Linked DNA regions of Homo sapiens: region 1 is linked to region 2. The links come from fine-mapping of genetic effects on gene expression. A gene starts in region 2. The other region holds a variant in brackets. All regions are shown on one strand. Distances are between the middles of the regions.

Evidence for each region. PIP is the estimated chance that this variant, and not a neighbour inherited with it, causes the effect.
Region 1: its variant is the best candidate, but not a certain one, in a credible set for the expression of ANKRD26 in lymphoblastoid cells (GEUVADIS, PIP 0.51).

What each region holds. Positions count from the first base shown.
Region 1 is chr10:27,148,122-27,151,037 of GRCh38, forward strand. YME1L1 (YME1 like 1 ATPase) reads right to left here. Exons shown (of 19, transcript NM_014263.4): 2 at 785-919. Among named protein-coding and RNA genes, the nearest start is that of YME1L1, 4.8 kb to the right of the region's middle. The variant CAAAAAA/C (reference allele first, on the strand shown) is at 1,590.
Region 2 is chr10:27,098,931-27,101,846 of GRCh38, forward strand. ANKRD26 (ankyrin repeat domain containing 26) reads right to left here and starts at 1,564. Exons shown (of 34, transcript NM_014915.3): 1 at 1,155-1,564. The coding sequence starts at 1,396. RefSeq lists an enhancer at 1,001-1,060 and a silencer at 1,231-1,410.

The DNA of each region.
Region 1 (2,916 bases), 49 kb after region 2:
AATCCCTACCTATTCCACTTCCCTGTAAAAACAGGTGTTTTTTTTTAGATTAAACCAAAAAATGAGATTACATTTTTATATTTATTTATTTATTTATTTTTGAGACAGAGTCTTGTTGTCACCCAGGCTGGAGTGCAGTGGTGCGATCTTGGCTCACAGCGACCTCTGCCTCCTAGGCTCAAGCTATTCTCTTGTCTCAGCCTCCTGAGTAGCTGGGACTACAGGCGCACGCCACCACACCCGGCTAATTTTTGTATTTCTAGTAGAGATGGGATTTCACCATATTGGTCAGGCTAGTCTTGAACTCCTGACCTCAGGTGATCCTTGAACAACACAGATTAAAGCTGCACAGATCCACAGATACGTGGACTTTCTCCGGTCTCTGCCACCAGAGACAGAAAAACCAACCCCTCCTCTTCCTCCTCAGCCCACTCAACTTGAAGATAATGAAGATCTTTATGATGGTCCACTTCTACTTAATGAATGGTAAATATGTTTTCTCTTCCTTATGATTTTCTTAATAACATTTTCTCCATCTTACTTTATTGTAAGAATACAGTACACAATACATAAAATATACAAAATATATGTTAATGGACCCTTTATTTTATCGGTAAGGCTTCCTGGTCAATAGTAGGGTATTAGTAGTTAAGTTTCTCAGGAGTCAAAAATTATACTCAAATTTTTGACTACGGGGGAGGGACAATATCCTTAATCCTTCATTTGTTTAAGGGTCAACTGTATATCAAAAAGGCTTTCTCACACAACCAGGATAAAGACTTACCTCACTGCTGGGAGCCTCATGCTCAGGAACTACATCTCGATGCTGGTTTTGAGAAACTGACACTCCACTGAGAGAAACAGAAGTGTTTTTTGGTGTATGGAAGGCATTGATGAGATGACTCAGAGGAACTGTAACCTAGAAAAAGATAAAAGTTAAAAACTAAGTAGTTTTTTTTTAAATAAACAGAACAATCTCCTTTTTTTGTCAGGATTTGTTAAGAGTTAAAGGTACATTATATATCAACTCTGTATACTAAAAACTGTAAGTACTCAGATTTACTGCTGGTGAGACGAAAACTGGTATGTTCTTTCAGGATATTATTCTGAATATGTAAATCAAAAGTATCAAAAATACATACATTTCTTGTTTGTAGCAATCCACCTTCTAGGAATTTATTATAAGGAAATAATCTGACAAGTACTTGCACATGCATAGAGAACAACTCTCATCGAAACATTTAAAAAATAGTAGAAAGCTGGAAACATCCAGCATTAGGGGAGCGGCAAAACAAATGATACCACTGGTCGAGTGCAGTGGCTCACGCCTGTAACCCCAGCACTTTGGGAGACCGAGGTGGGTGGATCACTTGAGGTCAGGAGTTCAAGACCAGCCTGACCAACACAGTGAAACCCCATCTCTACCAAAAAATACAACAATTAGATGGGTGTGATGGTGTGCGCCTGTAGTCTCAGCTACTTGGGAGGCTGTGGTAGAAGAATTGCTTGATCTCAGGAGGCGGAAGTTGCAGTGAGCTGTGATCATGCCACTGCACTCTAGCCAGGGCAACAGGGTGAGACCTGTCTCT[CAAAAAA/C]AAAAAAAAAAAAAAAAAAAGAAACTACCACAGAATGAAATACATCCAACATTTAAAAAAAAAAAAATAGTAAGTAGGCCGGGAATGGTGGCTCATGCCTGTAATCCCAGCACTTTGGGAGGCCAAGGCAGGTAGATACCTGAGGTCAGGAGTTCGAGACCAGCCTGGCCAACGTGGTGAAATCCCATCGCCACTAAAAATACAAAAAAATTGGCCAGGAATGGTGTTGGGCGCCTGTAATCCCAGATACTTGGGAGGCAGAGGCAGGAGAATCACTCGAACCTGGGAGGCGGAGGTTGCAGTGAGCCAAGATCATGCCATTGCATTCCAGCCTGGGTGACAAGAGCAAAACTCCATCTCAAAATAAATAAATAAATAAAAATGAAAACAAAAAAAACACTTGAGCCCAGGAAGTTGAAGCTGCAGTGAGCTATCATGCCACCACACTCCAGCCTGAATGACATGGCAAGACCCTGTCTCAAGAAAAAAAAAAATTTACTTAATAAATATTTGTTGAGTAAATGAATACATTAAATGGGTTCTTATTATATACCAGGTTTAGTACTACAGGCTTTACTTCTATCATCCCATTTAATCCTCAAACAGCTATAATAATGAGTAACAATTATACTTCTTGTTACAGTTCTGTCAGAGACTTTTGAACCAGAGTGACTCCATCTGGAGTAGGGGCAAAATGAGGGTAAATGAGGCTGAGACCTACTGGGTTGCATTCCCAGGAGGTTAGGCATTCTAAGTTACAGGATGAGATAGGGTGTGGGCACAAGATACAGGTCATAAAGACCGTGATGATAAAACAGGTTGTAGTAAGGAAGCCAGCCAAATCCCACCAAAACTAAGATGGAGAGGAGAGTGACTTCTGCTAGTCCTCACTGCTCATTATGTGCTAATTATAATGCATTAGCATGCTAAAAGACACTCCCACCAGACCATGACAGTTTAAAAATGCCATGGCAACATCAAGAAGTTACCCTATGTGGTCTAAAAAGGGGAGGAACCTTAGGGGTCCCCCTTTCCCTGAAAACTTATGAATAATCACACATTGTTTAGCATAAAATCAAGAAATAACTAACTGTAGGTATCCTTCGTGGACAAGCCCAAGCAGCTCCTCTGCCTATGGAGTACCCCATTCTTTACTCCTTTACCTTCTTAATAAACTTGCTTTCACTTTATAGACTCTCTCGCCTTTTTTTTTTTTTTTTTTTTTTTGAGATGGAATCTCGCTTTGTCGCCCAGACTGGAGTGCAGTGATGCAATCTCGGCTCACTGCAACCACCGCCTCCTGGGTTCGAGTGATTCTCCT
Region 2 (2,916 bases):
AGATACCAAAGTATATCCTCACATGCCAATACACTTCTGTATCTATTGCCACTTTCTTTTCTTTCTTTCTTTTTTTTGAGACAGAGTTTTGCTCTTGTTGCCCAGGCTGGAGTGCAATGGCACGATCTTGGCTCACTGCAACCTCTGCCTCCCAGGTTCAAGCGATTCTCCTGCCTCAGTCTTCGGAGTAGCTGAGATTACAGGCTCCCACCACCATGCCTAGCTAATTTTTGTATTTTTAGTAGAGACGGGGTTTCACCATGTTGGCCAAGCTGGTCTCGAACTTCTGACCTCAGGATATCCGCTTGCCTTGGTCTCCTAAAATGCTGGGTTTACAGGCGCGAGCCACCACGCCTGGCCTCTACTGCCACTTTCAATGGTCACATATTATCATGCACTGACATTTATTCACAAAATCCATTCTATGGGTTCTCCTTAATACACTGCTTAAGCAATGCTGAGAAAAACAAATTACTTGTATATCTATTTCCTAAAGGCATTTTATTTCTTTTTCTTTTTGAAAGATAGGGTCTTGCTCTGTTGTCACTGACATACCTCACTGCAGCCTAGAACTCCTGGGCTCAAGTGATGCTCCTGCCTCAGCCTTCCAAGTAGCTGAGACTATTAGAGTTGGGGGGGGGGGTCTCGCTATAATGCCCAGGCTGGCCTTGAACTCCTGGCCTCAAGCAATCCTCCCGCCTCAGCCTCCCGAAGTGCTGTGATTACAGGCGCGAGCCACCGCGCCTGACGAATAACAGATTTTATAGAAATAATTTTTAACCCAGAAGTTGCTATATTATGGAAACTGCTTATCTCATTATGCACCTTTCCATAAGTGTATGACATTGTATCTTAAATGTGTACATTAAAAATAAAACGCTGTACGTGCTTTTGTTCGTTAATTCACTTTAAAATTGTCACTTAAGTGCTCTCTAAGGGATTTCGGGGGGATCGGAAACCAGCTAGAGTTCTGTTTTTGTTTTTCTGCTCAGAAAGGCGGCCTGGGCGCTGGAGCCCTGCAAGGTGTCACCGTCCCAGGGGCTACGGAGCCCGCGGGAGGCTGATCCAGGCCCTGGGTGGCTCCCACAAAAGGGGCCCCTCTTCCTGCCCGCCTACTCCAGTGGCACTCAGTCCGGGCTTGCGACGCCTATTACCTGTTCATCTTGTCTCTATCGTTCAAGCCATTCTTCCTGAGCAAAAGGATCTGCTGCACTTTCGCCACATTACCCGCGCTGGCAGCTTTGTGGATCTTGCCGAGATCTCGGTCTCGGACGTGGTAGCCGGGCTGCGAGTAGGCGCCCTCCCCCGGCTCGCCCCCGCCTCCCGCGCTGCTCCTCTGCCGCCGCGCGAAGGAGCCCAAGGGCGACTCGCCCTTCTTACTAAAAATCTTCTTCATGGCCCAGGCGACCGGGCTTCAGAGACACCTCATGTCTCTCTCGGCTCTTAACGGCCTCCGGAGCCCAACATAACAAGTCAGCCCCGGCTGGCCGCAGCCTCCCAAAGGAAACTCCGCGGTTTCCAATCTCTCCCTCCGGGTTACCAAGCAAGCGATCCCGCTAGACACAAGTGCGCATGCGCACCTCAGATGGCAAGGTCCACGCGCGTGCGCACGAAGGCCCAGTGGTCAAGTGTGCTCCATGCGCATGTGCAAGGCCCAGACCTCGCAAATCTCGGCGACTGGGACGAGCCCTGCGTTCCTGTCAAACAAATGTCGGTGGGAGTCTGGCTGAGTGTTCAGGACGTTTGCGAAAAGAAGCCTCGCGCCTGTGGGGAAGCAGCCTTTACGCATGACTGGGACTGGAGTAGCGTGGAGTTTTAAGATGCTGAAAGCCTCTTCTCCGAGAAAACTCCCCTAAGAAACTCTCTGAATCTCCCTATCTCTCAGTTTATTCCCCTTCCATGTCCCTTTGGGTGCCATCTGGTCTCCATGAGAACTTAACAGATGCAACAACAGAGGGCACAGGATTTCGGAGATCGTGGCATATGTGTCAAGTGCAGAGGGCACAGGATTTCGGAGATCGTGGCAATATGTGTCAAGTGCAAACTTACGAGGAGAAACCAATGCACATTCTCCAGAAGAAATGAGAACGCATTTCTGCATGCCTCCTTCCCCCACCCCTCTGCCTTTGGCCCAGCCTTATGTTTTATTTTTTGCTTTTGATTTTCCAAGGTTACATCTCTTTCTTCTTTTTTTTTTTTTTTTCCCCAACAGAGTCTCGCTTTGTCGCCCAGACTGTAGTGCAGTGGTGCAATCACGGCTCACTGCAGTCTCCACCTCCTGGGCTCAACGATACTCCCACCTCAGCCTCCTGAGTGAGTAGCTGAGACTACAGACGCAAGCCACCACGCCCGGCTATTTTTGCATTTTTTGTAGAGACAGGGTCTCACCATGTTGCCCAGGCTGGTCTCCGACTCCAGGGCTCAAATGATGCTCCCATCTCAGCCTCCCAAAGTGCTGGGATTACAGGTGTGAACCACCACGCCCAGCCTAGATTGAATAATTTGACAACAAATTGGAATTAGCAACGCAGACGTCAAGTGGAGTCTCAGCAGAAATTGCTGCTGGAATGCACCTCCATAGCTCTGGACAGCTCTAGGGTCCCTTGTGGAGGAGGTGGCTGGCCCCAGAACAGGCGTCTTTATTGCCAAGTGAGAAATGAGCAAAAACAAAACAACACTTCTCAGGCCTCTCCAGCTTAGCTAGATCAAATGGTTTTGATGTGGGAGAGTGGTTTCCACTATCGTCACCAAGAATTTTCCTCCTACACTACCCCAGCTAGAAAGTTATGTTGTCTCCTCAACACTCCCCAAGGTGATCTATGAAGCTAGTCAAGTCCCAGCACTTTAGGAGGCCGAGGTGGGTGGATTACCTGAGGTCAGGAGTTCGAGACCAGGCCAACGTGGTGAAACCCCGTC